Regions from separate parts of the Homo sapiens genome. Here all the other regions are linked to region 1. The links come from fine-mapping of genetic effects on gene expression. A gene starts in region 1. Each other region holds a variant in brackets. All regions are shown on one strand. Distances are from middle to middle. Region 1 holds the start of CKMT2-AS1 (CKMT2 antisense RNA 1). Region 2 overlaps CKMT2 (creatine kinase, mitochondrial 2). Region 3 has its middle 25 kb from the start of ZFYVE16. Region 4 holds the start of CKMT2 (creatine kinase, mitochondrial 2).

The links. PIP is the estimated chance that this variant, and not a neighbour inherited with it, causes the effect.
Region 2: its variant is fine-mapped to the expression of CKMT2-AS1 in whole blood (TOPMed, PIP above 0.99).
Region 3: its variant is fine-mapped to the expression of CKMT2-AS1 in kidney cortex (GTEx, PIP 0.94).
Region 4: its variant is fine-mapped to the expression of CKMT2-AS1 in whole blood (INTERVAL, PIP above 0.99).

The regions. Positions count from the first base shown.
Region 1 is chr5:81,296,986-81,305,231 of GRCh38, forward strand. It overlaps CKMT2-AS1 (CKMT2 antisense RNA 1), which reads right to left and starts at 4,584. Exons shown (of 2, transcript NR_034123.1): 1 at 4,302-4,584. ZCCHC9 (zinc finger CCHC-type containing 9) reads left to right here and starts at 4,602. Exons shown (of 6, transcript NM_001131035.2): 1 at 4,602-4,713; 2 at 7,756-8,156. The coding sequence starts at 7,773. RefSeq lists enhancers at 4,331-5,120, 4,684-4,783, 4,934-5,113, 5,121-5,910.
Region 2 is chr5:81,235,937-81,244,182 of GRCh38, forward strand. The region is part of intron 1 of CKMT2 (creatine kinase, mitochondrial 2); the gene reads left to right. CKMT2-AS1 (CKMT2 antisense RNA 1) reads right to left here. Exons shown (of 2, transcript NR_034123.1): 2 at 1,629-3,419. Among named protein-coding and RNA genes, the nearest start is that of CKMT2, 6.7 kb to the left of the region's middle. The variant G/A (reference allele first, on the strand shown) is at 3,207.
Region 3 is chr5:80,378,586-80,386,831 of GRCh38, forward strand. No RefSeq gene overlaps it. Among named protein-coding and RNA genes, the nearest start is that of ZFYVE16, 25 kb to the right of the region's middle. The variant A/G (reference allele first, on the strand shown) is at 4,133.
Region 4 is chr5:81,227,021-81,235,266 of GRCh38, forward strand. RASGRF2 (Ras protein specific guanine nucleotide releasing factor 2) reads left to right here. Exons shown (of 27, transcript NM_006909.3): 27 at 1-3,142. It overlaps CKMT2 (creatine kinase, mitochondrial 2), which reads left to right and starts at 6,302. Exons shown (of 10, transcript NM_001099735.2): 1 at 6,302-6,357. The variant C/T (reference allele first, on the strand shown) is at 3,566.

The DNA of each region.
Region 1 (8,246 bases):
TGTGGTCCTCTTAAATTAGTTCATCTGAAATCATTAATTACTGTACTGTTTTTACCCAGACTTACTGGTAGATTATTTTATATAGTAGTTACTAAATCAGTACGAAATATTTTTGCCACTTGGTTATGTTCACTTTGACCTTTTATGAAGTACTAGCATAAATTTTTATCTCTTTTTTGTGTATATGTCAGCGTGTGTCAGTCTTATCTGCAAAAGCATTTCAGCTTATTGGAGAGGATTTTAGATCGAGTACATGTATTTATTTTTTACTGACTCCTCCTCCTCACCTCCCTGATCCCTCTCTCCAGTTGTCTGCAACACATTCTACTGTGAAGTTTTTCTTAAAACTTCCCAGGAAGAAATATTTTATCTGTAATCTCTATATCACCATAATTCCCTCACTAATTATAACATCAGCTTATTAGTGGTTTAGCAATCTGTCTTACTCTCACAGGCTCTTGGCTGCTTAAGGGCAGGGACCTCTCTGTCATTTGTATATATTTAGCACTTAAGGTACTGGCAAATAGTAGACATCAAAAAGTGCTTTTTCCTCACCTATCCTATTTTACAGAATTCCATTTGTAACTGCAAGACCTCTCATTGTTCCTTGGAATGGACAGTCTAAGGCCCGTATCTGGTATGATTTCCTCAGACATAAGGAGGAGGAAGTACGCATTTCAGAGAATAAAGGAGAGCTTGCAAATCTTGCCACTTGTTTGTAATTTAGGTTTAAGTATTCATTTGAAGCACTTAACATCCTAACCACCGAAACACATGATTAGGAACTCAAATTTGAGAAATACAACAAGATGGTAAGATGAGTCAGAAGGATACATCATTTTTGTGATTAGTGTTCCAACACTATTCTTTATCACGTTTAAGCAAAGAAGATGAAAGAGATTCAAGCTTTTTCAGAGGGTAACACAAACTTTATATTATTCCTATTCCTTATTGCCTAGGAACCTCAAGTAACTTCCACTAATAGGTTTCTCTTGCTCCACACTTCCAATAGATTTTCTTTCACTTCTGAAATAAAGCAGTATTGCTTGTAATTTTGTTACTGAGAAAACCAACAATGCAAATGAAAGCATGTTAGTTAACAAAATTCAGTCACTAGCATTGTGTTCTATGGCAATCACTTAACTTCTCTGAAACTTAATTTATTGATCTGTAAAACAAGAAGATAGGGTTTTAAGAGGTATGTATTTCTATGAGTCTATAATTAGAAATTCTCATGTGCTGTGTCAAAACTCCCATGGATTAAAAATAACTCTTTAATAATGATTCTAAATGTAATACACACCCATTAAAGAATATCTGTAAAATTATGTATAAAGAAAAAAACCCTCACAATCCTATTACTCATGGGCCTTATTGTAAGGATCCTAAAGCAGCTAAAAATATCACTGACAGGTTTTTAAGATGTCAGAATGTCACTGGTCTGGATCTTATTTTTATTTCCAACAGCAGGGTCATTAATTTTTTTCCTCTCTCTTCTGCTGTATTTTTCTGCATACTATAAAAAAGTTCAATAACTGCCCGGAGAATGCATTAGGTACAGTTTTCCACACAATCCTCTTCTCCAGATCTATTTTATGGGATCTCCTGTATGATCTAAAACACTATCCACAGTTGTTCATTGCTTAAGCTCTAATGGATAAAGTTTGAACACTATAATTTCACATTTAAAAACACTTTAATTTGGCAAAATCTCATCCCAGCCTTCCTTTCCAGATTCACTGTTCTCCGTTCCAAATTGCTCTATAGGTAAACTGGCTGCCTGGAGGCTGTTCACTCTAATGTGTGAGTCAGTTAGAGGGATGGTCCACCCAGGCTGGGCCTTGGACACTTCTAGTCCTCATCACCTATTGGTCACTTCATCTAGGGTGGCCAAGCGCCTAATATTCAGAGAGAATCTGGGCAAGAATGAAGATTTAAAATTCTAATGGTAGTGGTTTCAATTCCTGGTAATATGGAATAAGCACACTCCACTGTCTCTGCCAGTGAATCAAGCTATAAATCAGCAATTTGAGGACTGGAAAAGAAACAGCAGCAGGAAAATTGAGAAGACGACCAGAATTCCTTATTTAACATTTACCTTCCTGATAATATTGTTATAAAAAATACATTTACAGTATTTCAATAAGTAGATGGGAAAACTGAATACAAACATAATCCCTTGAACTGTAAAAGTAAATACTTTCCAAAAAAAAAAAATCGAATTTGGGCAAGGATAACTTAGTAAAGTGTTTTAAAGTGGATCAAGTAGACAAACAATCCTCTGCAGTATTTCAAAGTAGCAGAGCACACAGGTTTGGATTGAGATCTTGGTTCAAATCCTGACTCTACCTCTTATTAGCTGTCTGACCTTGGATAAGTTACGTCAGCTCTGTGAATTTATTCCCTCATTGCAAAATGGAGAAAATAATAGTACCAACCTCACAGAATACTGAGTGGACTAATTAGGTAACGAATGCAAACCATTAAGCATACTGCTGGCACCTATAAAATGTTCAGTAAAGTTAGCTATTAGTAGCAATAGTTTCCTCCGAATTCCAAAGGACTTATTCTACGCCCTATTTGCTCAACTACTAATCTTTATTGGACATACCGCTACAAAAAGAAATCGGTATGTTCCTTTGCTTCCAAGAATGAACGACCTACAGTTTAAAATGCAATATACCACTAAAAAGAAAAGTTTTAGTTAAATGCGCCCTCTAGTGGTATGTTATGTGTAAGTACCTTGCATCTACCAAAGATAAAACCTCTTCATGAAATGTCACTACCCTGAAACCAGCTGGTTGAGATCATTACAGTATGGGCAGCACTACCACACATCTTTTAGGAAGTTCCCTATCTTCAAGAGCTGGAAGTTGCTGTTGTTTGTTTGTTGTCTTTTAAAACTTTCTCCACCATATGAACTACGGTATTTGTGATATGTACCATACCAAATCTCAACATTCCTACAAGCACTGACTTTAAAATCCCTTCTCTTAAAGAAAACTGGGCCACTTTCTAGTTTGCTTTAAACAAACATCGCAAAGTACTTATTCTTCATTTACTTAACAAATACGAGGGCCAGGCGCGGTGGCTCACGCCTGTAATCCCAGCACTTTGGAGGGAAGAGGTGGGCGGATCGCCTAACTCAGGAGTTTGAGACCAACCTGGCCAACATGGCGATATCCCATCACTACTAAAAATACAAAATCTAGCCGGGCGCGGTGGCGGGCGCCTGTAATCTCAGCTACTTGGGCGGCTGAGGCAGAAGAATCGCTTGAACCCGGGACGCAGAGGTTGCAGTGAGCCGAGATCGCGCCATTGCACTCCAGCCTGGGCGACAAGAGCCAAACTCCTTCTCAAAAAACAAAACAAAACAAAACAAAAAAACAAATACGCAGTGAGCACCAAGGATGTACCAGGCAATGAGGATACAATAAACTTACACAATTATTGTGTAATTACAAATGTGAACCGTGTCATAAGAAAGTATAGACTGCCGTGAGCACACAGTAGGGGATTGGTCTAGTATGGGGGTAGGGGGCTGGAAGGCTTTCTTGAGAATAAAATACTTAAAGCCTTGAAGGGTGAGTAGAAAGTAACTGGAAGAAGAAAAGGAGTACCATACAAAGAGACTAGCAAATGTAAAGGCCTGGAGATGGCAAGGTACACACGGCATTTGAGAAATTGAAAAAATGATCCTATGCACGGAGCTCAAAGGAGAGACTGAGCAAGGTGAGGCTAGGGAAGTAGGCAGGGACTTCATAAGGAGTTCGAATTTCATCCTAAAACAATGGGAAGCGAAGGGAGAGTTTAAAGCAGTACAGCAGTACTGCTTTAAATGTAATGATTTACATTTTCAAAAGTTCCGTTCCTACGACACGGAAAATGGATTTCAGGGAGTTGGGGCAGAATGAATCCCCAGACCAGTTGTAGAACTACAGGTACAATATGGGACAAGGGAGGAGGTGCCAACAGAGATAAAAAGAAGTGGACAAATATTCAAAAGGTTAAATGGATTGAGCAAACTGTTGAGAGTAGTGGTCCTGGTAAATTGCATTTTTTCACTAGGCACAGCTGGTGGTGGTATCCATTTGCAAGAAGCTACAGAAAATGAGCCGTTTGGAAATCCAGGGTTTTCCTCTTAAAAAGAGAACTTGTTTGGCTACAAAGTGTTAACATTTTAATTGAATGCTCAACGAGCACTGAAGGGGGGACATGAGGCACTGCCTCTCACCCAAGAGAGCCCCCAAATGTCCTTTTCAGACTTTTATCACAGTGACCCACTCCCACCGCGCCTTTACCTTGCCTCTGCCTGGAATGTCCTTAACTCCCTCTTGCCGGCAATTTCACCAGATTTTTGATTTCTTATCCAGTCTCACGGGAAGCCTTTCCGGCATCTCCCACCCTACCGATCTTCCCGTCTATCTCGCCTGCTACACTGTGAGTTCAGACAGCACGGATTGAACTCTTCATCTTTTCGTGTCGGCGTCCTGCACAGGGCCATCCCATCACTAAGCGCGCCACAAACTCAGCCCAGTATTGACGCCCACGAGTCGCTTGTAAAGACCGTCTGTGACGCCGGAAGTGACGCGCTCTCGGGCACTATGTGCTTCCGGTCTCCAATACCGCAGGAGGGCGGTCTTCCCCGGCTCGCCAACTCGGCTGCTCTGGGGGATTCGTGCGCGGTAAGAAGCTGCGCGGTAGCGCGGTGAGGTGAGGTTCTCAGCCACCAAAGCTGCAGGGTCTCGTCGTTCGTTCCCTCTGGCCTGGCGGAACTTGCGTGGGAAGCTGGGAGGACAGAAGGCTTAGCCGCTGGGTCCCTGAGCTGGCTGGAGCGCGGGCTGTCTAGGGGCGGCGACCTCAGCTGTTGGGCTCCGGCTGCTGGGGGCTGTGCGTCCAGCCGCCCTGGAATCCGCCTGTGGGTGGGCCGCTTGGCTCTCCCACTTCACCCTCTTGATAACCCAGAGCCTCCCCCTTCCCACGTACGTAGGGGAAGGATAATCTACTTCCTTTTGAACAGCTTCGGTCCCCACTATGACAGTCGCATAAACTTCAGCGAAGAGTGCGCTGGTAAAGTGGCATGGAGTTTCTCACACCAATTCATTGGGTCCACCCTTCAGCTTCTGTGGAAGGGGTCTTTCTGTTACTAGGAGCTGAGACTTGGGGGGTTGCCAGGGATGCTGGTCTTAAAAGGTGATAATTTAGGCCGGGCGCGGTGGCTCACGCCTGTAATCCCAGCACTTTGGGAGGTCGAGGCGGGCAGATCTCCTGAGCTCAGGAGTTCGAGACCACCCTGGGCAACATGGTGAAACCCCTTCTCTACTAAAATACAAAAAATTAGCTGGGCGTGGTGGCACGCGCCTGTAATCCCAGCTATTCGGGAGGCTGAGGCCCGAGAATCGCTTGAGCCCTGGCGGCAGAGGTTGCAGTGAGCCAAGATCGCCCACTGCACTCCAGGTTGGGCTACAGAGTGAGACTCCGTCTCAACAACGACCACAACAACAACAAAAAAGGTGGTGGCTTAATACAGCCATGCTCCCCTTAAGAACTGGTATAGTTATGAGAAATGGTTGGGCCGTTTCGTGGTTGTGTGAACATCATAGTGTACTTGCACAAACCTACACAGCTGGGCCGTATGGGATAGCCTGTTACTCCTAGTCTACAGACCTGTACAGTATAACTACTAAATACTGTAGGCAGTTGTAAAAGGATGGTGTGTATCTAAACACAGAAAAGATACTGTAAAAATATAGTGTAAAAGAAAACATGGTACAGCTGAATAGGGCACTTACGCATGGAGCTTGCAGGGCTGTCGGTAGCTATTAAGTGAGTCAGTGAGTGGTATGTGAGTGTGAAGGCCTACGATATTATTTAGGGTATTACTGTACACTACTGTAGACTTTATAAATGCGGTATGCTTAGTCTAAGTTTATTAAAAATAAGGTAATAACCTTAGCTTACTGTGCTTTTTTAACTTTATAAACTTTTAAATTAATTTTAACTCCTTGACCTTTTTTTTTTTTTTTTGAGACGGAGTTTATTCTCTCTGTCTCTCATTTTTGAGACAGAGTTTTGCTCTTGTCACCCAGGCTGGAGTGCAGTGGCGCAATCTCAGCTCACTGCAACGTCCACCTCTTGAGTTCAAGCGATTCTCCTGCCTCAGCTTCCCAGGTGGTGCGCGCCTGTAGCTGGGACTACAAGAGTGCGCCACCACGCCCAGCTAATTTTTGTATTTTTAGTAGAGATGGGGTTTGACCATGTTGGCCAGGATGGTCTCGATATCCTGACCTTGTGATCCACCTGGCCTTGGCCTCCCAAAGTGCTGGGATTACAGGCGTGAGCCACCATACCCGGCCCACTCTTTTGTAATAACACTTAGCTTAAAATGCTAATGTGTTGTATAGCTATATAAAAATATTTTCTTTATTCCCTTACATTATTCTATAGCTTTTTCCTGTAAAAATTTTTTTTGTTGTTATAAACTAAGACACACACATTGTGCCTACACCGGGTCAGGAGCATCAATATCACTCTTTTCTTCCTCCACATCTTGTCCTACTGGAAGGTTTTCAGGGGCAGTAACATGAATGGAGCTGTCATCTCCTATAATAACTGCTTTTTTCTGGAATACTTATAATTGTCTAGTATTATGTACAGTACATCATTGTAAGCATTATGCTTGTATATGACTGGCATCCCAGGTTTGTTTACACCAGCATTACCACAGACATGAGTAATGTGTTACACTACAAGTTATGAGGGCTACAAAGTCAATAGGAATTTTTCAGCTCCATTATAATCATCTGAGACCAGTATCATGTGTGCAGTCGCTGTTGACCTAAATGTTATGTAGCATGTGACTAGCTGATGAATCTTTGATTATGGCTGAATGTTCTCATTCATTGCAGGAAAAAAATATCCTCCAAATCACTAGGTAGTATGTAAGTGACCAAAACTTTTTTCCATTTTATGTTGGAGCCAAATCATTAGTGTTAGGATAAATTACTTCTTTATGTATGTGCTCTAAAATGAAAAGTTATTTCTGAATATTAAAGCATATGTATTAAGAGTATAAAAACAAGATACAGATTTTGGTGTGAAATATATCTTATGATTCAAGTCATAATTTAAATAGAATTGAAGATGATGTGAAATCACTGGGCTGGAAGTAGCTTATACCTTGATTAGTAAGAGGAAGCCCGGGATCATCCTGTGATGGTAAACACTTTTATATGTTTTACTTATAACTTTGCCAGGAAATTTCAACAAACTTCATATTAAAGGACATGATTTCTGTATACTTAGTAATCTGCTATGCAAATTGTTGCATTGAAATGGCAGACGAAGCAAGAAGATTGGGAGAAAGTAGCTGTGGGACTTGGAGATAGGAAAATAAACAGCCGGGAAAACTGCAGAATGTGGGAGGAATAATTGCATTCATTGTATTACTATCTGATTTATATTTTATGAAATAATTTGGTTTCTTAAGATAGTTTTTCAATTTTAAGCACACCTTTTTTAACTGGTGTGGCAGCTTTTCTGGTAAGTGGTAGATTTATGTTAGAAGCATGTCTATGCAGCATATTATAGCATTAAATATGTATACAGATATCTAACTGAAATAAAAAGTGTTTTAATAATTAAAAGTTTAACATATGGGCATATGTGACATATAGTGATATAGCATGTCTCTTTAGTTTTGTTGTTTTTGTTGTTGATGGCTAACCACCCATGCTTGTCTTAAAAATTGATAAGGTACCACTGATGAAATTATGACCAGGTGGGCCCGAGTTAGTACCACATATAACAAGAGACCCTTGCCTGCAACATCATGGGAGGACATGAAGAAGGGATCCTTTGAGGGAACAAGCCAAAACCTACCAAAGCGTAAACAACTTGAAGCCAATAGGCTATCCCTCAAAAATGATGCACCCCAAGCAAAACATAAAAAGAACAAAAAGAAAAAAGAGTACTTAAATGAAGATGTGAATGGATTCATGGAATACCTAAGACAGAATTCACAGATGGTTCACAATGGGCAAATTATAGCAACAGACAGTGAGGAAGTAAGGGAAGAAATTGCAGTTGCTTTAAAGAAAGACAGTCGACGGGAAGGAAGAAGATTAAAAAGACAAGCGGCAAAGAAAAATGCAATGGTGAGAGCATCACTTCTACCATGTTATTTACTTTATTTAGCTGGAAACTATTCTTATATTCACACACATATATACCTTAGCCAGCTCTGG
Region 2 (8,246 bases), 61 kb before region 1:
AGTCATTGTGGTGTTCCAGGTTAGGGAAACTGAGGCAGAAAGCTTCTATGGGGTGAGAGCTGGAGACCACCTTCCTCTTCACACTGGCACAGCATCCCTAGCAAGGCCTGGCAGGCACATTGAGCACTAGAGTCAGAGTGGAGCGGGCAGAGATATCCCTGGCGTCTGGGTTACTTCAGCGGGAGCCTGAGGACAGGGAAAGAGAACAAGTTTATAATCTGCAACTTTAGAAGTCATATGCCCTGAGGTGACAATCCTGTGCCTAGGAGCTGCTGTGTTAAATGCACTTCTACGGTCTTGGGGGTTTGACTGAGTGGAATGATCTGTGGCACCACAGGTTTTAAGCCACAGGGGTGGTTTCCCTCCAATTGCTGGTCAGTGAAGGGCTGTATGTGAGGTGCTGCGGTCTGCAAGGAAGCTGAATCCAGTGCAAAAGACAAACCTGGGTTCAAATCCCAGCTCTACTAGTGTGCTGGCACTGAAACCTGGGGCAGGTCACTTCTCTTGAGCCTCTGTTTCCCCATGCCCAAAATAAAGCATACTTGGCAGGATTGTTACATAGACTGATTGTGTTTGTAAGGTCCCTTACATAATGCATGGCTCATGATAGGAGCTCATAAATGCTCAAAAAGAAGACAGAAGGTTTGACTCAGTCGGTGTATAGGGTTGGAAAGGATATTCCAGGGGAAAGAAAACACTCAAGCAAAGGCTCAGAGGTGGCAAAGTGAAGGACCTGTTCAGTGATGCCAGGAAGTCATTGGAGACACTGTTGGAGGGGTGGAGTCTGGAAGAAGAACTGGGGAGCCCAATTGGTTAAATCCATTTTGTGAACCCCGATGTTGGTTTTCAGAGGATGATCAGTAGATCTGAAAGTATGTGATAGACACCTTTGAAGTCTTGTCCGCAGAGATAGAAAATACAAATTAAAAGAAGGCAGCTGTGGTGGTTCACACCTCTAATCCCAGCACTTTGGGAGGCTGAGGCAGGTGGATCACTTGAGGTCAGGAGTTCGAGACCAGCCCGGCCAACATGGCAAAATCCCATCTCTACTAAAAGTACAAAATTAGCCACATGTGGTGGTGGGCGCCTGTAATCCCAGCTACTTGGGAGGCTGAGGCAGGAGAATTGCTTGAACCCAGGAGGTGGAGACTGCAGTGAGCTGAGATCGCACCACTGCACTCCAGCCTGGGTGACAGAGCGAGACTCTTTCTCAAATTAAATGAAACATTTAAATGCGAAAAATGTAAGTTAAAATCAAAAAGCATTCAGAAAAGGGGCAGGCCGAGTGCTGGCTGGAATAATCAGGTGTGGCTTTGGGGAGGGAGTGATGATGATCCCATAGCCTTAGGGTCATCAGGGGAAGGGACTCATTTATTCAGTGCCTACTGCAGCCTGTCCCGTCGTCTTCACAACACCTCACAGGGAGACCTCATCATGCCCATGATGGGGAGGAGCTGCTGAGGCTCGGGTGGGTACCAAGCAGGGTTCCTACACCTAGCGGGGCTTGGTAACATCCTGTAATCGGGGAGCTTTTTCTCATTATACATGTGAGGGCCCCACTCTTGGAGAGACTCATTCAAAAAAGGTGGAGCCTAGAAATCCAAAATTTTAACACACATCAAAATTTTCTTTTTTAGGTTTTTACTTTTTTATCATAAAGATAACACATGCTTATTTTTACAAGTGATACAATACAGAGTTCCATTAAGAGAAAATTAATCTGCCTTCTCCGAGTCCGTTACTCTGAAGCAACCCTTTTAGCAGTTTGATGAATATCCTTCAATACTTTTATGTTCATACAAATACATGAAAATGTATATGTATATATACATCATTGTTACAAATTGCAACCGCTCATATTCAGTCCTAAGCAAGTTTTTCTTTTCCTTTTAACCTAAAAAGGTGTCACAGATGGGCCTCCAGGTAAGTGGAGGCAGTTTTAACTCCTTTAATAGCTGCAGAATATTTCACCATCTGAATGCACCAGCATTTGTTGAGTGGCAGTGCTGGGCTTCTCAAACTATCTGTGGCAAAATCTCTTATTAATTTCTAATCCATAGCAGACTCACACATTTGTAAAATATGATAAAGTGCAACTATTAGAAAAAGAGAATAAGGCTGGGCGTGGTGGCTCACACCTGTAATCCCAGCATTTTGGGAGGCCAAGGCGGGCAGATCACGAGATCAGGAGATTGAGACCATCCTGGCTAACATGGTGAAACCCCGTCTCTATTAAAAATACAAAAAATTAGCTGGGCGAGGCGGCAGGCGCCTGCAGTCCCAGCTACTTGGGAGGATGAGGCAGGAGAATGGCGTGAACCCGGGAGGCGGAGCTTGCAGTGAGCAGAGATCGCGCCACTGCACTCCAGCCTGGGCGACAGAGCGAGACTGTCTCAAAAAAAATAAAAAAACAAAAACAAAAAAAAACCAGGCATATAAAATGCCAGCTCAAAATTTAAAAAGTAAAATGACTATCAAAGTGCTGTAGGTGTTCTAAATGCTTAATCTCAATTCCTGTACTTACATCGTCACGAACTGCTAACAGCCCACAGACCACACTTTGGCAGCATTGGTCTGGGGTCAGCCTTCCCTAAGTTGAAAAAATCACTCTTCTGTGAAGACCTTGTCACTTTTCACCACCTCCAAATTCAAGTCCCAGGTCTCACAGTTTGTTCCTTTGGCTATGGCTCCAGTGCCACGTGCTTTGGCTCCAACCTGTCTCTGCAGTCCCTCCCCTGCCTCTGCCACTCATGGCTCCTGCCTCTGCACATTCTGTCCACTGTATCTGGAAAGTCCTCCCTTTATCCACCAGGCAAGGTGAAGTGATAGCCCCGAAGATTTTTTACCTCTTCTAGAAAGCCCTCTCTGACCCACCAGGCAAATTTGGGTCTTCTCTCCTCTTTACTATTTTTGCTCTTGTCCTTTGGATTATAGTGGTAGGTTTTTATAGTGATCTGTCTCCCCCACCTGGCTGTACCCTGAACTCTATAAAAGCTCCTTGAGGGCAGCCCCAGTATCTGACACAAGGATTGATTCTCTAACGTTTGTTGAGCAGATGGAGGGATGGATGAGCAGATGGATGGATAGATGGACAAACGGATGGATGAAAGAGCTTCCAGGCTTAGCTCTCAGGCTGTAACGTAATCTTTGCTGTACACAGGCCGTGAACTGGGTGGTTGGCCTTGCCCATGTTCAAATCCATTTCT[G/A]TTCTAGACTCCAGAATCTGTCAGGGCTGTCTTGAACCGTGGGTTTCCTTGAGGCCCTCTAGGGTACGTAGCCACCACAAATTCCAGCCAGAATCAGTCCTAGCTTAATTCAACTCTCCAAATTTCAGGGGAATTATCTTCCGTAGAGTCCCTCCAGAGGCAAATTTGTATTAGTGACAGTGGCCCAGGATGCTGTGTCCTCATCTTAGGAATCTGGACTAGGAATAGAACAGGGGACACATTTAGCCCTTTCTTTTTTTTGGCAGCATTCAAGGGCAGGCTAAGTCTGCTCTGGGCTGAGGGGAATGGCCATTTCCCCACCTGGAAGATGCCTGGAAAGCAGCTTTGGGGAGGGAGGAGTGGGGGCACGTGGCATCCACAGTCCTCCACTGATGCACATGGGTGTGCAGGGGTCTATTCATCGTTTCCACTCGAATCCTTTGCAGGGTGTGACCTGTCCTAGTCCCAGGGCAGGTGGAGGCATGCAATACAGTACTTTGGTATGCTTAAGACCTGACAAGGCTCCTCAAACAACATCGTTGAATGGTCTGTCCCATAGCCAACCATGCCCTCCCAGGACCCCCCAACAGGCTCTGGCTCCCCAAGTAGAGCACAAATCACACACAATTTCTAGTTGCCCAGCAGAGGGCCGTGGTTAAGAGTGTGGACTATGACTGCTGGCCAGAATCCCAGCGCTGCCACTCACAAACCATGTGGTCCTGGGTGAGTTATTTTGCCTTTCTCTCCCTGCATCTGCTCACTTGTAAAATGGGAATAACACGAGCACACAGCGTTTTTTTCCTCAGACTAAGGACTCTGGAAAAGCTGCCACATAGTAGGTAAATAGTCATCAGATGAATAAGTAGACAAATACATATCTCTACCCCCTCCTCACCCCCTCTTTCCCCTCCCTCCAATGCTGCCCACCATGGCTTCTCCCTACCTGAAACATATCAGTGTCATTCACCCACTTGCCCTTGACTCACATGACCCGCTGACCGCCTGGAAGCCTGTAGTGAGTGGTGTTCCTGCGAAGGAAGGCCCCAAGAGCCATCCCCTGGTTCTGCTTCCCCTCAGTGCTGCCTGGAGTGACACCTGTGTGCTGTGGGCATTTTGGCCCCATACTTAGCCTCCCCTCGGCATCAGCCTATGGAAACCCTGCTTAAGGGAAAACACTCAGCATACCTGAGAGACCAGGGAGGATCTGAGGCAGCTGGAACTCTCTGGCAGCTCCATTCCTTGGGAGACAAAGGGTTAATGACAATGGCCCAGAGGAATGGGGGCACACGGCATCCACAGTCCTCCATTGATGCACATGGGTGTGCAGGGGTCTATTCATCGTTTCCACTCAAATCCTTTGCAGTGTGTGACCTGGTCCTAGTCCCAGGGCAGATGGAGGCATGCAATACAGTACTTTGGTATGGTTAAGACCCCATCTAGACATGCTGTAATATTTGTATGGTAAACTATTGTGAGTGAAAGGATCTTTATTTAAATGAGTGCCTGGTGCAGAACAGACACTCGATACATATGATTTCCCTTTAGCTGTGTGACCTTGGGCTGTTAGTTAATGTCTCTGTTTTTGAGTTCCCTCCTCTGTGACATGGGATACCTACTTCTTGGGATTGTTTTGAAAAAAGTACCCTGCCCTTGAAAGCACTCGAATTTTGTTTTCTCTCCTTATTCAGATATTAAAAATGTTATAATAATTACAGTTATCCAACAGTAAAATGGGTTGCTGTGGCAAGTGGTGGGATCCCCAGGACTGCTGGTATTTAAGGAGGGCTGAGGGAAAGGGATGCCTGAATTTCAGCTGAGGTAAATGACCTCTAAAGCCTCTCAGGTTCCTGACATTCATTCACTTACTCATCAGACATTTAATGATAACCTATCATGTGTGGGCCAGCGTGCTTAAGAACCAAGACAAACTGTGGCCCAGTTCTACATTCATTGGGTCTTGTCCCTCTGAAGTAAAGGATGGACCCAGTGATTGTCCCTTGTCCCTTTGATGCGTGGAATTCCCAGTGATTGTCCACCCGACTGGAGCCTTGCCAAGCTTCTTACACTGTGCCTTCCAGCACGTGGAGGGAGGAAACCAATTCCTGCTCCTCGTGAATTCCAGAATGTAAGTTACCCCACAAGCCCATGCAAAAAGGGGAAGAGCTTCCTCCTTTTTCTTAGAGCATTTCCTTTAGAAAACTTATATTTTGCTGCCCCTTTGAAATGTATATAAATCTTTTTAAAAGCTAAGTAAGGCTCCAGTCGATTTTACAACCTAGGACTCTTTTCCTGCAAGGGCCTGGAAACCATCTCTTTGAAAATACAGACATCAAGGAAGATAGCTCCCTACCTCCCACTGTCAGTGGGAGGGCAGTGGGTAGTAGTTTCATTTAAGCACCTGGCTCCAAGTTGTAAAACTACCTGCTGTCCTAGAAACTTGAGTTTTATTTTTCCTTTTGATAAAGGCAATTAGCGAACACAAATGGTCACCAGGTGAATTTAGGATGAATTATGCTTGACAAATGGTGCTGTCAAGTCCTCTTACTTTAGTTCGAGAACATGTATGTAATGAATGGGTCCTATTTGCTTGCCCACATAAAAGGGTGGGATGTCTGTCTTTGCAATCTCCTTAGCAGAATGCTAAAGATGTGCATCACTAGTTTAATGTTTATTCAATAATAAAATATTTTCTTTTTCCTATATTTTATGGAGAGGAATTTCTGGGGTGGGAGGAAATTTAAATTGTTTCCCCAACACCTAGCACTTGCTCCTCATCTGATTCTTCCTTTCCAATCTGCCTGCTCAGTCAGAACCCCTAAAAAAAAAAAAAAGGAAACAGAAGGACATGCACATTTAGGCCTTGTACTCTGCTGGCTTTCGTCTGTTATCTGTGGGGTAGTCTCTGCTGTGTCACATACGGACATCTCTGACGATGGGCACGATGAGCTCCCAGGGTTCAGACAGCCTGTCATGGTCAAACGGTCAGGAGCCTGCACTGGGCCACCCTAATTTGCAGATACCAGGAAACGGAGCAGGTACATGCTCAAAACCAGAACTGAGTGTCTCACTTGGTGGCTTTTATTGATAGGATTTCAAAATCCATGTCTGAAAGAAATGTGTGTCACATCATATAAGTAGATTTCATTCAAAAGTTTGTGGGCTTTTTTTTTGTGAGACAAAGGTTTGTTCATTTCTTGCATTTGAAGTACTCTTTGATGACATCCTTGGGCTGAGACTCCTTGCCATAGTCCTTAACTACTACACAACTGCAACCAACCACTTTACAGGGTTTCCCCTCTCTGTCAATTTTACAGAGGTCGCCTACTCATTCCCCTAGTTTCTTGTCATCAACCTTAATTAGGTTGATTTGGTGTTCAGCACAAAGGGCCTTGACCAACCTGACATACATAGGCTCATCAGAATTGGATGCAGGCACACAAAGATGGGGTTGGTTCTGGTTGCCCAGCATGCCAAAAAAGCCAAACATTGACGCTGAGATTTGTAGTGAGAAAAAGGCGTTTATTGCTGGGTGCCAAGCAAGAAGAATGGGTACCTAGCACTTAACACCTGAGCTCCCTGCTGGCTTATAAGCAAGGGTTTTTAAAGCAGGAGTGAGGGGGTATCCAAAATGAGTTAAGAGCTAGGGAATTTCTGGAACTTCCATATCTATTTTTTGGTTTCAGTCTGTCTGAGTTCTATGACAGTGGTCAGCATTTTCCATCTGGTGTGGGAATTGTTTTCTGAAAAGCAATGCAAGGGAATAGGTCAAGATGCTATCTTTAGTTTCTACAGGGAATCAAACATTTTGTGACTCTGACTTACTTGAGTGGCTTTTAAATTATTATCTTCTTGTTTAGCAGGTTATTCGTTAACTTCCCTAATTGCTGGCTGTAGGACTAGCTAGGTACCTGGAACTTCCCTTAAAGGGACTGAGAATGTTGCCTTGATTTCTATGCTTGGCACATGTGGGTAAGGGGAGGAGCCCAGCAGGGCCATAAGAGAGGTCCCTTGGGAAGACAATACAAACATTAGGAGTGAACAGAATAGAGATATGTGGCACTGAGTTTACCCGCAGATGCCAAAAAGGCACAGAGCACAAGGGCAGATGAATGAGCAGCCCATGAGTACACTGCGAACTGAGAGAGAATGCAGTCATCTTGAGCTAGAAGGGAACAGATTTTGTGGGGATTGAGGCACCAGGCTGTGGTCCAATTAGGCAGAGAAAGATGGACAACAGAGTCCAAACGGTAGGGGGTGATAAGAAGCAAGAAACAGTAATAACTGTTTCTAAAACAAATTAGATTTGTTGCATTAGCACAAAATAGAAACAGCAAACCAATATTTTAAAAAGTCATATACAGTATATAATATTAGAATAGAGATACAAATGTAGGATATACATGTGTGTTTTTCAAATTGAGATCATGCAAAGCTCTAGTGCAATGGAGCTGAATGTGAGGCTAGCTACTGTGTCCTGATGTTCTGGGCCCCCATAACAGGCCTTGAATGATGTGTGCAAGAACTGTGTGAGCTTTCATGAAATTCCTAATAGGATTTTTTTTTTTTTGAGTCAAGTCTCTATCACCCAGGCTGCTGGAGTGCAGTGGTGTGATCTCGCCTCACTGCAACCTCCGCCTCCTGGGTTCAAGTGATTCTCGTGCCTCAGCCTCCCGAGTGGCTGGGATTACAGGCGCGTGCTACCACACCTGGCTAATATTTTTTGTATTTTTAGTAGAGACAGGGTTTCGCCATGTTGGCTAGGCTGGTCTCTAACTCCTGACCTCAGGTGATCCGCCCACCTTGGCCTCCCAAAGTGCTGGGATTACAGGCATAAGCCACCATGCCCAGTCCCTAATATGATCTTATTTAGTTGACATTTGCCTCTTTCCCCAAAAATAGATCAAAGGAAATGTTTCCCTTTGTCCCGTTTCACACTAAACGGGTTGGGGAGGAACCAGGGGAGATGTCAACCGTCTGCCGGTGACTGGGAAGTTTTCTGCAAGTCCTCCACAGCATAGGCCAGCAGGCCACTTTTCACTA
Region 3 (8,246 bases), 920 kb before region 1:
CACTGGGCCTGACCTGACAACTGTCACTCAAGCTAAGTCACGGAGGGTCCTTTAGGTAGGACCCACGCCTTTTTAGTTGGAGGTTTTCTTGCTTGTATTACCTAATGGTGCCCACAGGCTGGCTTCATGCATGTGGGTCATGGACAGTCCTACCGGCGCGCATGCTTAGAAGATACTTGTGCTTGAATTAATGTTCTGCTATCACTATTTGAAATTCATTAAAATTCTTGATCAAGGAGTCACAAATTTTTATTTTGCACTAGGTCCTGCCAATAGGCCTTTGCATTTACAAGCTCTGCCCTAAAATTCTTGCTTTTTTCTTTACCTTGTGCTACTTGTCTTACCTTTACTAAAAGTTTTCTCATCAATTCAGCAATGAATTAATATTAGTTCATTCCTATCTATTTTTCAGGGATGATCAGATTTTATGGGGCCTGAAGCTGAAATAATTTGGAAGGTTTTCTTTTAAAAATATATAATTACAAATGTGAATATTTATTTAAAATAATAAAAGAAGACTGGGAGTGGTGGCTCATGTCTGTAATCCCAGCACTTTGGGAGGCTGAGGTGGGAGGATCGCTGGGAGTTCAAGAGCAGCCCTGGCAACAGAGCAAGACTCTGTCTCTACAGAAAAGTTAAAAAAAAAAATTAGCCTGGCATGGAGGTGCATGCCTGTAGTTCCAGCTACTCAGGACGCTGAGGTGGGACGATGGCTTGAACCAGGGAGTTTGAGGCTGCAGTGAGTTCTGATTGCACCACTGCACTCCAGCATGGGTGACAGCAAGACTTTATCTCCAAAAAAAAAAAAAGATGTTGTTTCTTTTTTATTTATTTATACATTTTTGCATGTTATATAATTTATTCGTGTTAGCATTCAGACATTTTTAGGTGGGGAAGATGATTTGCAGAATTCACTACAAGGTACAACAGAAAATCATATTTGAAAGGACGGTACATCTGGTGCAGACCGGCAGTGGTACGATTCCAAACAAATGTCAGACGAGAGCGCTTCATGGGGAGAAACTGAAAATAATAATTTAAAGCTTCATGAGGCAAGATATGTTCTAATTTAAAACACTAAGAAATAGTACCATTAGTTTGTTTTCTAAATTCTCAATGAAATTAGCTGGGTGTGGTGGTGCACACCTGTAATCCCAGCTACTCAGGAGGCTGAGGCAGGAGAATCGCTTGAACCTAGGAGGCGGAAGTTAAAATGAGCTGAGATTGTGCCATTGCACTCCAGCCTGGTCAACAGAACCAGAGTCCCTCTCTAAATAAATAAATAAATAAATCCTAAATGATATGTACAGAATATGTCTGGGAAACAGTAGACACCTAATTATTTATATTGATTGACAGTTTAAGGGACAAAAGATTAAAATTACAATTATAGGGTATAATAATAGCTATAATAACTTTTTTCTCAGTATGGTTGTATGGTTTATGGTTTACTGATAAGTTCACACATTTTTAAATTTCTGCGCATTTTGATGAATAATAAAGAAGTGCCTTTAGCTAATCAAAGGCAAGTTAATCACTTGCTCAGGCACAGAAGGGAAAAAAAGCTACTGCAACACAGAATAAAGAAATTGTTCAAGGAAAAGTTTTTCATTCAAAAACCACTGCCATAAAACTTCAAAATGCTATGTTTTACGTGATCTTGTTTATTCAAATTCCCAAATTTTTACTCCCAAGGGCTGCATTGGTTTAATCCAAAATCCCTTATGTCAAACTGCATAAAAATACTTGTTAAAATGCCATCTTTTGTTATCATGAGTTGGCTACTTAGACAAAAATCCAATTCATGTCAGAATTAAAGATGTTTATATCAAGTCCTTTAAGAAAGACTGAATGTCAACATAAATTGAGAAGTTGCCTGTTTTCTGGGTATTTCTAATTTTCAGGATTAGCTTATGTAATCAAACCTCATGGAAAAACACTCTACAAAAGATATGTTGGTATTGTGTATAGAAATATTTTGTTTGCAGGCCGGGCATGGTGGCTCATGCCTGTAATCCCAGCATTTTGGGAGGCTGAGGCAGGAGGATCGTTTGAGGTCAGGAGTTCAAGACCAGCCTGGCCAACATGGTGAAACCCCATCTCTACTGAAAATACAAAAAATTATCTGGGTGTAGTGGCACACACCTGTAGTCCCAGGTACTTAGGTGACTGAGGCAGGAGAATCACTTGAACCCAGGAGGCAGAGGCTGCAGTAAGCCAAGATCATGCCACTGTACTCCAGCCTGGGCAACAGTGAGACTCCATTTCCAAAACAATAAATAAATAAAAAGAAAAATTTCATTTGCAAATTGTATTTAAAAGTTGTATGACGTGTTGGCCGGGCGTGGTGGCTCACACCTGTAATCCTAGCAATTTGGGAGGCTGAGCTGGGCAGATCACTTGAGGTCAGGAGTTTGAGACCAGACTGGCCAACATGGTGAAACCCTGTCTCTACTAAAAATACAATAAACAAACAAAAAAACAAACAAATAAATATTAGCCGGGTGTGGTGGTATGTGCCTGTAGTCCCAGCTACTTAGGTAACCGAGGCTGGAGAATCACTGGGACCTGGGAGGTAGAGATTGCAGTGAGCCGAGATGGAGCCACTGCCCTCCAGTTTGGGCAACAGAGTGAGATCCTGTCTCAAAAAAAAAAAGTATATCAAGTGTTTACTGGCCAACATTCTAAAACTCTGGACATTACATGATTTAGAAAGAATCTTGAAAATCTACTTAACAAACTAAATATTTTAAAAAGGAAACAGATTGACTAAGGAAAAATAGAATCTGTAAGTGTGGTCCTTTAAGAAATGACAATAACCAGTTGTTAAGCAGAAGCAATTGATATTTAAGATGTATTTCTTTTAATTTCCTTTCTTTTGTGTGTATATTCTAATTTGTTATGCAAAGTTTAGGAATAATAGTTGTTTTTTTTTTAACTTCAACCCAAAAAACTATGATAGTTGGACTTTGCCAGAAGTTTATATCTTGGCAGAAGTATACAAGAAATATATTACTTTACAGCTCTTTTTCTTGTCAAAGTCATTAATATTATATAGCCTAGAACTTACGCAGAATGCTAAGTACAGTCAGGCACTTCTTAGTCATTTTCATGATATTGGTGCTGAATATTAGGCTACATAATTTTAATTCTGTGCCAGATTTACAGAAAAGAAGCTAGCAATCTTTTGATACATTATGGGAATATTGCTATATACATAGCATTATAATTATGTTAATTATATATTGTTAGCAGTTATACTAGAAGTTACTTAGATGAGATTGCATTTGGGTACTATTAATACAATAATTGATGTAAACCATTTATTTTGTGGTTGTGCTAAACAGACAGATATGTAATTGGCACTTGTATAAACTGAATGCTTGACAAATAGCATCTGCTGTATAAAAATTATCCATTGAATTATGGAAAATAAGCCAAACTAGACATTAAAAATGTACAAATCTACTATAAATCTTTATTAATTTCAGCAGCATGGTACTGGTAGATCAATGGATTGAAACAGATTTCCTACAAGCATATGCCAAAATGTGACTATCTCTTAGACTTTCCCTGGTCCCAGAGGGTCACTCCTTTCTCCCAAAGCCCTTTCAGCCCACCCTTTCAGAGTCACCCTGTGTCTTAGTCCATTCCTCTTGCTATAACAAAATATCTTAAACTGGGCAATTTATAAATAATAGAAATGTATTTTGCACAGTCCTAAAGTCCGAGATCAAGGTACCAGCATGTTCAGTGTCGCCAGGGTTTGCTGTCTGCTTCCAAGATGGCATCTTGTCGCTGTGTCCCCTGGAGGGGATGAAAACTGTGTTCTCACATGGCAGAAGGGACAGAAGGGCTAAAAAGGGACAAACTCACTCCTTCAAGCTTTTATAAGGGCCTAATCACCTCCTGAAGGCCTCACCTCTTAGTATATTGTGTTGGGTCTTCGGTTCCAATGTGATTTTTGGAGGGACACAAACATTGAAACCATAGCACTACAGGTGCCAAGTTCACCTACCATTTTCCTCTCTGCTCCTTTATTCTGCACCCACATCCTAACTAGGCACTTTTCTGTTTCAGGCCTTTCCTCTTCCTTTTCTGCTCTCTCAGCGCTTCCACTGTCTAAGTTTCA[A/G]TTAAGACTACTATGCAAATAACCTTCAGTTCTGAGCTAAAGATCCTTTTTTGACTTCTCTTACCTATGCTTCAAACAAGTTTTTGTCTGCCTATCCGCAACCTTGCCAACATCTCAAACTTAATACGTTTAACTAAATTGGCCTTCACTGCCAAAAGGCCTTCCTATTTCACATAACTTAATTATTTTACTCATTTTCTTTTAGATCCTGGCTTTCCTCTTCCTGCGTAACCAAAGTTTCTAAAGACTGGTTCCTACCTGACTTTACTTGTTTACCTCCATTCTCTCCTCAATCTTTGAATTTTCCTCCTTTACCCCCAGTCTATTCACTGCAACTGATCTTAAGAAAATTTCCGACAGCTCTATCTTATTTGACCTCTTTGCTCCTTTTGACAATGTTGACCTTTGTAAATCTCTTCCTCCTTGACTTTCATGATAACTAGCTCTCCTAATTCTCAACCTAGTCCTTTTGTCCTTCTGTGATTTCTGTTGGGTTCTCTTTCTGTCCACCATGTAAATGTTGGTCTTCCCCTAGGGTTACATCTTTGACTCTCTTCTTCCATTCTATATCCTCTATAGTAAAACTTTGTTATCATGGCTAGTAGCTGGATCCTTTTCCCATATTCAGATAATTTCTCTATCTTATAAACTTTGGTAGAAGGTAATGTTTGACTTCTCCCTCAAAGAAAAAAAATAAGCTAGGAATTATCTTTCTCAGTTTTCTTTATAGCTAGGACAGGATAAAAGTGTATAACCAAGACTATCAATCATATACACTCAACGTGGAATAGCAATCATAAGGGCTTCCAAGAGACAGAGGTTGTGGAAAGGTAAATTCCTGGGACACCATTGGCAACAGGGCTGCAATCAATCTCCAATATCTAGTGACAGTAATACCATATCAGTTCTATGGCAGGATTTTGGATCCTATTTCTCTCTGTGACCTGAGGCTAGTTCTCCAGCCCTCTTGAAAATTATTTGTGATATTTAATATCTTTTTGGTAAATTTCTTTTCTCCTTTTAAAATATCCAGTGTGGTTTCTGTTGTTTGTAACTAAGAATCCTACACAATTAAATCCTGAGTTTTGACTCCTACCTATATGCTCATGGATCCCAAATCTATCTCCTGACCTCTGCTCAAACTTCTAAATCTCTGTTGGATATCTCCACAGGCAACTCAAAACTCAACATCTCCAAATATGGACTCATCGTCTTCTTCCCAAATCAAACCTATTACTCTTATTATTTTTATTATGAATACCACAATTCAGCTAACTCCACTCAAAAGAGGACATCTAGATTCATTCTTATTTTTCACACTTGTTCATTCATAAACAGAGTATGCCAACTCTGTCTTAGGTACTATGACATATCCTAGGTGACTGACAAGATAAGTAAGACACTGATCTCAAAGATGTCACAGTATAGTGGGATACTTTTTTAAAAGAAACGAAAATACTCCATCAACTTTAAAATTCAACTTCTTTTGCCTCCTGCATGATCTTATTTTATCAATTATATATTTTAATTTGTAAACCTTAAGCCTCTTGCACTTCACCAGATCTTACCCATCAACCCCTTACATTATAAACTTGTTTTTCTAATCTTAACTAAACTAAAACTAACTGAATTTAGGAAACTAACCTAAAAAAATCCAATCTAGCTAGATTCTGTAAACAGTAATCTTTGCTCAGTGATGTCAACTCCTCACTTTTGTAAAATTAAAAAAAAAGTTTAACCAAAATAATGTATGTGTACGTTAAGTAACTTTAAAAGTATTAGTAATAATAGTTAATAGCGATTGAGTTTTTATTTGTTCCAAGTATTGTTTTTAGCCTTTCATGGAAATTATCTTATAATCCTCACAACCATATGAAGTAAGTACTATTATTATATCCGTTTTGTAAATAAGGCAATGGAGTACAATAACATTTATAATAGAAATGAACAGTCCTCTGCCCCATTTTTTCCAATTGGAAGCTATTCTACCCAACTCTTTCGCAGTGTCAGTTCTTGTTAGTAACCTTCATATTTATAAATAATGCACTTATACATTATATCTTGATACATCAAGTTTAGACATTGTCTTTTAACTTGATGATGCGTTAGATAAGACTTTTTCTTACTTACATACCCCCAGCACAAACTTCTGCCTTTACCCCTTCCCCTAGCCCTGACAATGTGGTTACTTATTCTCAAATCGTCTATTAATGGCACTGCCAAATTCAAACACACTTAAACCTGCTTTCCTTGATCTATCAACTATGAAAGTAGTTCATAGTTTGCAGTGGGCCGAGATTGGGCCACAGACAGAGTGAGACTCTAGCTCAAAATAAATAAATAAGTATATATACACACACACATATAAATACATATATATGTATCCACATATAACATATATATGTTTTATATATATATGTTATATATATATATATATATATATATATATGTATATCCTGCTGTACCTGGGCATGGTAGCACACACCTGTAGTCCTAGCTACTCAGGAGGCTGAGGCAGAAGGATCACTTGAGCCCAGGAGTTTGAGGTTACAGTGAACCATGATTGCTCCACTGCACCCCAAGCTGGGCAGCAGAGTGAGAGCCTGACTCTAAAAAATCCTGCTTTTATGGAGCTTATTTTCTATTAAGATGATATCAAACAAGATAAGCAGGTAAAAGATATGGGATGGTCTAAGGTAACAAAAAATTAGTTGGAAAGGGAGATGTTAAGTGCCAGGTGTTAAATTTTTAGATAACATAATCAGGAAAGTCTCACTAAGGAAGGACTTTTTGATTAAAAGCCTAGAGAAAGTGGGGGAAGATGGGGAAGAACATTCCAAGTCGAGGGAAGAGCAAAGACTGTGAGACTATGAAGAGACTGACCTGTTTGCAGAACATGGAAGCCACCCTGGCTATAGTGAGAAGCTGGGGTCAGGGAGAGGATGATGGCTAAGAAATCAGATCACATAGCCCCCAATAAATCAAGAGGGTTGGGGGCTGATGCTTTGAGGATTGATTGGAGACATGTTTAGAAGAAACTTCATCGGCATGTGAATAAGAGAGTGTGTGTGTCTGTGTGTCTGTGTGTGTCTGTGGCGGGTGGGTAGTGGTTTGGGAAAAGGAGGCAAAGTGGGTGACTCCCAAATTTCTGTCTTGAGCAAATAAGTGAGTACAGTTCACAAATACAGTGGACACTGGAGAAAAACTGGTTGGGTGAGAAAGATAATAATTTAAAATTGTAATATGGGAAATTTTAGTTCTTTTGTTTCTCCCACAGGACACAACATTATTAGGTTATACAACATACACAAAAATGCTAAGTTCAAAAACGAAAGGGAATTCTATATGTCTATCTTTTTAATGGTACTGTGTAAGTATATTTGTCAATTAGCTAATACTTATTGAGATTCTATTATGTAACAGACACTGTGCTAAGTATTATAACACGTTATCATGAGAAATGTAAGTAAAAATTGTCAGCAATTAGTTGAATATAAAGGTCCGTTGCTCAGAAAAGGGACATGGGAATCTTCAGCACATGGTGATAATTGCAGCCTGCAGTAGATTAAGTCATCTAGGTGTGGTGGTGGAGAGGGGCAGGCCTTAGAACTGAGCCCTGAGGAGATCTGTCATTTTGTGTTCTGATGGAGGAAAAGCTCACACAGGAAATTTACAAAGAGCTTCGCAAAAAATGTGGTGTCATGGAATCCAATTGAAGAGAGGGTTTCAAGAAGGAAGAAGTATCAGCTAATCTTTAAAAATGAGAGACAAGCCTGGTGCAGTGGCTCATGCCTATAATCCAAGCACTTTGGGAGGCCAAGGTGGGAGGATTGCTTGAGCCCAGGAGTTCCAGACCAGCCTGGGCAACATGGTGAAATCCTGTCTCAACCAAAAATACAAAAATTAGCCAGGTGTGGTGGCGCGCATATGTAGTCCCAGCTCCTTGGGAGGCGGAGGTGGGAAGATGGCTTGAGCCTGGGAGGCAGAGGTTGCAGTGAGCTGAGATCACACAACTGCACTCCAGTCTGGGTGACAGAGGCAGACCCTGTCTCAAATAGATAAATTAATAATAAAAATCTGAGACAAAAAACTGATGAGAGCCTTATTATTAGCT
Region 4 (8,246 bases), 70 kb before region 1:
TTTACCTCCCTCTTCTCTTCTCAGGGAGACTGCTGCTTTAAAAGAAGGAAGAGAAAAAATATAGTTCTATTTCCCTGAACCTGTTGCACCTGACATTTTCTCTTAGCAGCATGAAACTTATTGATGCTGACAATGAAAAATGGATCTGTCTGGCTGCTTTCCCTCTTTCCTTGCACTTTAATTATGTTGCTAGAGCTAACAGACTAATAAATTCCACCTGCTGGCTCTTAAGACTCAGTGAAAGAGCTAGCATTGGTAATGCACCATAGAGGTAGAGAATGTACACTTTCTGCACGGTAAGTGCCATCTCTGTATGTAACTATATAGTGAAATATCAACTAAGTAAAAGAAAATATAATATTTGAAGACCATTCCCAAAATATTTTCAATAGTTCATATTAGCCAACAGTGTAGCACTCAACCCAAGGAGGGTTCCTTATGGATGCTTTCTTTTTCTTTTTTAAAGTTGCTTGTTTGTTCTCTTTAGTTTCAAATAAGAGGTTGACGCATCTTGATGCATGATGAGAAGCATGGGCTGTTTGGATCCTAACAACGCATAACTTGTGATTTATTTCTCAGTGCTCCAGAAACTGAGGGTTTGAAATAATATGTATCAGTTGCACCAAACACCTCAAGGTCTTGCAGAAGAAAAGTAAAGGTTAGCTTTCATGGCTCAAAAGCATAGTCCTGAAGGGTGAACTAAAACCGGGACAAATCTGTGAGAGGACCACACACATACTAGTTTCGGGCCAAACAACACGTGGAAAGGTGCATGCATTCTACTCTGCCTTGGAGTTGCCAGAGTCCTTCAGAGGGAAAGGGATGGTTCTGTGTGCACTTTTTCTGGAAGTTCGGACTCATTTCTTTGACCCAAATGTTCCAGAGACACTGCAGCCATTCTTATTAACAAAAAATAAGACAGGAGTTTCCAAATGCTCCTTCCCTTTTGGATCGCAGCTTTTCTTCAACTAGTGACAAAGCTTTTGCGCCTATTTCCTGCAGGATGTTGGAACTGCCCCGCACTGGTCATATTAGGCACTGTCAATTGCTATGCTGACTTTTAGGGGGTTTTTGTTTGTTTGAAAAACAGGGTCTCACCATGTTGCCCAGGCTGGTCTCGAACTCCTGGACTCAAGCAATCTTCCTGCCTCAGCCTCTCAAGCAGCTGGGACTGCAGGGGTGTGCCACTCACTAGCCTTTCGCATTTTTGTTTGAGAATTACACCACTTTCTGGAGTCTGCAGCCTTCCTGGAGCTGCAAGAGGGCAAGAGAGAGAGCTCCACCTCTGAGGGAGTGTCTGTTGATGACCTGCACTATTCGTGTGCCAGCTGGGAGAGGAATGCACATTTTAAAATCCCTTCAATTTGGTCAAATTAAAAATCCCCAAGAGCAATTTGCAGTGTTTTTTCTGGTCGTTAAAGTACCCATCCTCTTCTGCCTACACACAAAGCATGCATTCCCAGCTGCATCTGCCTCTAGTCCATTATGGAGACCCATTTCTAAGAGGAGATGGGAGGTCAACCTCTAACAGCCAAGTAGCGAACATGTATACTGTAAAATTAACCTAGAAAATCAGAAGAAAAATCCAATTTCATGCTTTCGAATGAATGCCCACATTTTGTACTGTCAACGAAATTATCTTGGAGCTTTTAGGGGATGCCTTTTCGTTATTAACTGAGACATCTAGTTTTGCTACAGGGACAAATCTCTTACCTAATCCAATATATTATTTGACAGATTCAGGCATGAAGTAAAACGTCGTCACTTTTCCTTAGTGCTTTTCTGAAGGAATTTAAAGACGGAATTTTAAACGGCCATTGCAATATTTTCAAGTGGCTCTCATACCAAGTCCCATTACTGTTTGTTAAATTTCAGTACGTCTTAAAGTACTACTTATAAACAAATGAAACTCAGAGAAACTGAATCACCTGGAAGAGAAAAATCCATTATGGTCCCATGTGGAGTGAATAATGATGGATCAGCACCCTTTCTCTCATGTTATTGTATAAGACGAGACTTTTGGGCCAGCAGCGATTGGGCAGCTTTTAAATTCTTAACTGAAAAGAGTAATGCAATACAGGGATTATTCCCAATAAAATTAACTTTTATTTAAAAGCAAGAGATTTTACTTAGCTTTTTTTTTTCAAAGTTTGATTTTATCCCCTTGAAAAAAAATCTCTTCACTTTAAAGTATAAAGGTTTTTAAAAATCCAATTGCAAAATGTATTATTTTTACAACTATCGAAAAGGCATAAAAGAGAACATACTATTTATGGCTGAAGGGTATAGCCAGGCTAATGTGCACAGAGGGAATCAATAAATAAAACTCTTTTTCATTTCAGTAAGAAATCAGATTGTAAGTTTAATGGCTCCATTATAGATACCACCGTGTAATAGAAGACTTAAGTCAATGAAATCTAATCAGTGTGTCATTTCTCAGCGGCCATTGGTGACTTAAAATTAAGATGAGGCAGAGCCAAAATGGAAAACAGTCATTTTGTTGTAGGTATAAACACATGAACGATTCAGAAAATTATTCATCTCAGCTGCCATGCAGCATGACATTAACATTAGGATTGATAGCACTAGTCTGATCTGCTCAAGGAAAATAATAGTTCTATTATACTTAATGATGTTGGTTTTTACACAGCTCATTTCATTTTTCACTAGAAAGCCAGTTATGAAAGAGAGCTGGCCTAGGCATCCCGGCCCTGAGTCCTAGGCCCAGTCTCCAACTGGAAAACCTTAGGCTGGTGTTTACACATCCCTGAGCCTCAGTTTCCTCATCTGCAAAACGGTGTGAATAGTAATCCCTGTGCTGCTTATCTCACAGGGCTATTGTGAGGACCAAATGGATTAGACTGTAAACTGCAAAGTGCTGTCCGCACATGAGGTCATCTGATTACTGTCCTCAGATCTCTTTTGTAGAGGATTTCAATGTATTTCTTTATCATTTGAGTGTGTGTGTGATGGACGAATATGTGTGTGAGTTTGAGAAGCATATCGTTCGTGTCCAGTTACTTTGCAAATTTGTGGACATTTGTGATTGGACAGAGGGGTTTGTGCTGTGGCCTAACACTTGCCAAGTGAGGTGTAGGTTATGCCTATATGCAAATTAAACTTCACCTTTCTTGAATATTCAGAAATCTCACTGGTTTCTTCATTTAACTCTTTTTCCCCCCATTTTTCTACATTGTCAACTTAAAACCATGAAATGTATACATTTAGAAAAAATAGAACTTAATTTCTTATAAAGGGTTACAATCTGCAGGCTGGAGCCTCTGGCCAAAGCCAAAAGCAAGCACTTCAGATAAAAAAGGGAGAGGCTGAGATTTATGCCCAACAAGATGAGCCTTACATATACATTTAGTAGGTTATAGGATAATCTTATGAATATTTATGAGAGGCCCTAATGCATGCATAGCCAGTAATCATATATGTTACATGTTACATACAACCCATGTTCACTTTGGGATGGAGACTTAAAATGTAGTAAAATTGGGCTCTATATGTCAAAAGATGGAACACAGGGCACAAAGACGCTTGGTGTGCAATCTCTGTAAAC[C/T]GGCCAGAACCGGCTGTGGTCTGTGGTCAGTTATGAGGATGGAGTGCTTTGTAAGGCTGAACACTTGTCAGGGGGAAACTGCGTTGAGGGAAGGGGGGGTTCGCCACGTCAGGTTGTCTGTTGAAGTTGAGGAAGAAATCTTCCAGACATAGTTTTTCAGTAACTGGTTTTAGTTTAATTTTAGGAAAGAAAGTCTTGAGGCAGTTATCGAGGTGGGAGAGCGTTGGGTGTGACTGACCTCTTGCCTTGCCAAAGCTGTAGAATCTGGTTTTTAATGTTTCCTGGGGTCTCTTTTTACCACAATGAGTCTGTTTTGTTTTGCTTGGGGGCCTAGGGGCTTTATTTTTATTTTACATCTTCTTCATAGCAGTGAACTCCTTCAGATATATTATTTACTTCTAAATATTACTTCTAAAGTTCAGGGAGAAAAACAGTTTAGAAGAGGCCCTAAAATTCAAAGAATTTGGGGAAAGCTTTGAAATGATACGAAGGATCAACTAATCACACTTTCTTTGCAGTGCTTAGATTCTTCCTGTGACATCCCCAGCCTATATTTGATACCTCCAGGCACAGAGAACTCACTACTACCTGGAACAGCTCAGTCCATTGCACAGCAGCTCAACGCTCCTGAATGGGTGGTGGAGAGAGGAGAAGCCGCCAGGGTAGAGTCCTGGCCTAATAGTCACCAGGCTCCACCTAGGAGGGGCTTCTGAAATAAGACTCCTGTCTACCCCTAAAATAACTGCAGTGGTTATATGGATTACTATATATGAAAATACTTTAACTTCTATGAAGTTGTGGCAACATTTAGAGCTGATGGAATTAAGTTACAGTTGCTGGACACAAGAATAGACTAAGGAAAGGGGTCCCTCCTGCCCAATTCTGAAATGAGCAATCCAGGCTGGTGCGACAGAGGAACCCAGGTTCCTTTCATCCTATTACTTGCTCATCCCACAAGGCGTCATCCTTGCCTTCGAGGTCAAATCTGGGGCCTGCTCTAGCCACACTCCTGCTGGACTCAGGAACAGAAAAGAGAATAAGTCCAGGACATTTTCCTTTAAAGCAAATGATATGGCAGTCGCACACTTCAATTCTGTTCCTGCCCTTATGGCAGAAGCCAGCCACAGGGCAGCCTGGTGTGGCTAGAGCCCCAGAGCTTCAAAAGGAGTTGGTAACGATGAGAAGGGAATAGATGCCATGTGACAGGGATGGCATTTGAAAGATTTCCAGAAAGCCAGAATTTCTACTGTGAGTCCCTTGTAGAGATTTCATCCCCATCACACCACCTTTATAATAAGCTTGAAGAGGACCAGTCCCCCAAAAGAAGGGTGGTACCCTCTTTTCTCAACAATGACCCAATTTTTCTTCTGACCTTACTAACATAAACATTTACTCTATAAAATATAAGGTGTTGAGGTCGGGTGAGTGGAGGGGGCCCTAAATGTTGATTAGGCAATTGGGGAGGAAAAGGAGGTTTTTGCTATAACTGCCATTCTTTAAATCTACAATTCCATGCTCTTTAAAAGCCTTATAATTTTCTGGATCTGGGAGCTGGGCTATTTCAGGGTCAATGGATTTATTTCAGTTGGTGCCTGAACTGACTTGAAACAAGTGTGTGTGGAAAAGAGCTATTTTGAGAAGGAATAAACCGAGACTGCCCTGATGATAGAATATGCAAGCTGGTGGGTCTTGACTCCTTAAAGGATTATGAAATTAATTTGATTGGTCCCAATCTTTATATAACCACCCCAATCAGGAAACTTCCCATCCCGCCAAAAGGCCCCCTCACGTGCTCTCCCTGTCAGTACCCCATGCAAAGGTAAAATAGATGATATTTTTAAACATGGGTCGTGTTTAAAAGAAATGGAAACTCCTTCAGAGAATGAAGGAGAACCACACTGGGTAGAAGGTTATTCCTGGGGCTCCACCCCTTGCTCCATCAAGTCCTCTGAGCATGAGCTGGGCTCTGAGAAGGAAGAGACAGGAACCAATTGGTCATGTCCACGTGGCCTCAGAAGCTGAGTACGTGACGGTCACCAGATGCCTAGGCAGGCTCCCTTGAAATGGCAGGGCTGCTGTCCAAAATCCTGCTGGGTCATTGCTATTTACAGGCAGCCTTCCCGGCGTGCGGTGGATATCCCAAGCGGGGCTATTTTTAAGCAGGGCTATGGCCTGCCGTGGGTTAAGCTGGTGTGGACAGAAAGCGAGATGATCTAGCCATCTACTGCAGGGGGCCTGATCTTGAACAGAAACCTGACTGTAATTGTCCCTGGATCCAGGTCCCAGACAAAGACGCTGGAAGGAGGTCCCTCCAGCCCCTGGCTCAGGGCCCGGTCAGCTGCTGGAGCCAGGCAGCTTGAGACATCCTCCTCTCCGACCTTGGCTTGAGGGGTTCATCCTCCAGAGCTCACCAGGGCCCCAAGGCTGGTACACCTGAGAGAAGAGAGAAACAAATCCCCCAACAGATGTGCAATTTCACCTGCTGGCCCTTCCATTCTGAGATCCAGAGCCCTGGCAAAGGAGCCTCCAGGACCAGGCCTGGGAAGCAAGACTGGCTCCGCCTTTTACGTTTCAGAGAAAGGGCAGGTGCTATAAAGGGCCCAGCGCCCACGGGCCTGCCTTCAAGGGTACAGCTGTGGGGGCCGGTGCGCCCGGAGGTCTACGCTGGGATTGGTGAGGTCCTCTGGCCCCGCCCCGCCAGGGAGGATTTCCAGGCCGGCCCGACCAGCTCGCCCTGCATACACTTCTTGGCTGTGTGCGCTCAGCAGGACGTGGGAGGCTCCGGCTTCAAGGTCGGTGAGTCCGTGAAACTCTGCTTTATTCCTCCAAAGAGGGGTCATGGCTAGAGCCAGTGTGAAGGGCCTTGGAGGAGTGGATGCCGGGCTGTAGACGGGGACCCCGTTAGGACGCTGACTGCGAGGAGGCAATGGTGACTCGCTAAAGCCAGCAGAGCTCCCGCCCTTGGCCGAAGCGACCCCTCCTCCCTGCACACAGGTGGGGGCAGCTCAGCACCAGGAGCAGAACAAATCAGCACGCTGCCTGCAGGGCCTCTTTTTGGTAGTGAATCAGGAATTTTTCTCGATGGAAAAAAAAATCTAAAGGCTGTATTTTGACGCTAAGTTTGGGACAACTTTAAACTTAAAGTGTCTTTCCCTTGTAATTCACAGAGTCTAATCCACTCATTTCTGGGAATGTTTTTCCCCAGCAGTCTCAGTCTCAAAAGACATGTAAATCAGTGACTTGGGATGAACTAACTAGAAAATTAAAATTTTGAGAAGCTATTTGCTCATAAGCCCAATAGCCAGGCCCAGTTTAAACGGGCAAATAGTATTGCTAGAGATTCAGTTTTGCCGTCACTAATACTAACACATTGATAATGAGACAAGTAACCGTCTCCCCTCCCCACCATCCTTACCTTTCCCACCGGAGGTTAATTAAAAAAAAAAAAAAAAAAAAAAAAACCTATGGAATTGGCCCCACGTGTTTCACCTGGGCAGAGGCCTGTTCTTCACTAGCTTGCTTGCTTGGTTGGTTGTCCCGGGGTTAAAATCAGTCCTGTTCTTGCCCCTAGAGTGGTCTGCCTTCAAATGCTCTCCTCCGAATGTGAGGAAGAGTGACATTTGACAAACAGACCAAAACCTTTAGGTCTCCTCAGTGCTGCCCTTTAGACCTTCCAGAAAGTGTTGCCAGGCTCGTGACCCCTCACAGTGTCAGCTGAGTCAAGTGAGGGGCAGTTAGTGGCCCTCAGGACAAGGTTACGCTAGGTACACCAGTGTGCTGTTTCCAGAAGGGCTGCTTTTCCTGTCTACGGCTCTCACATTTTCTCTGTTCTGAACTCGTGTCCTTGGTCTGTTCTCTCTGTCCTCTCATAGAGGCGAGCATGGCCACAGCATGTGGCCAGAGACTTCCTGACAGGCAGGCTCTTCCGGGAGGCTCTTGGCCTTGTTTGGCGGTCTGAGCACTTCACTTCCTCTGCATTGATAGGCACCTTTTCCAAAGACCCCAGACTTTGGAGTTAATCACGCCTGTGGGTTAAGGCACTGTCACAGCAAAGCACAGGAGTGCCACATGCACCCCATGGACTCTGCCAGCCTCATGACCAAATCATATCATTAGGAAATGGGCCATAGGCAGGTCAGTTTTCCTAAGGAAACTGTGGGTTGGGTCGGGGGGAGTACCATACAGAATGGGGAGTCCTGGGGTTTCAGACACAGGAGGGAGACTGACTTTGCCCCTAGCTCAGAGGCCCTGGGCCTCCATCTCTGCCATAGCCTACAGCAGGCTCCATTTGTCTTCCCAAAGGAAGCCACGTAGAGTCTGTGTCAAGCATTCTGGGAGCTCCTGCCCACAGAGCCAGGAATCCAGCAGCAACCCATGCTGAAGGTGACTGCTGGAGGTCACACTAACCCTTGCCAGGAAGCCTCAGAGACTCCCTCCCTTGGGCGGGGAAGAAGGCAGCCCACTTCACAGCACTTCAAAGGACTAGATGGCTCCTAGCTTCCTGTTTTCTTGAAAACAATTTACCCTTGAGGGACAAAGTCTGGTAACGGTCCCATGCCTTCATCACAGGAGGCCTAGGAAAGGCCTCTGTTTTACAGAGTAGGATTCTAAATATCTCCTTCCTGCCTAGGACTGTCTATTTGCTGAGTAGAACAGTAATGCCAAGAGTGCCCATTAAGGT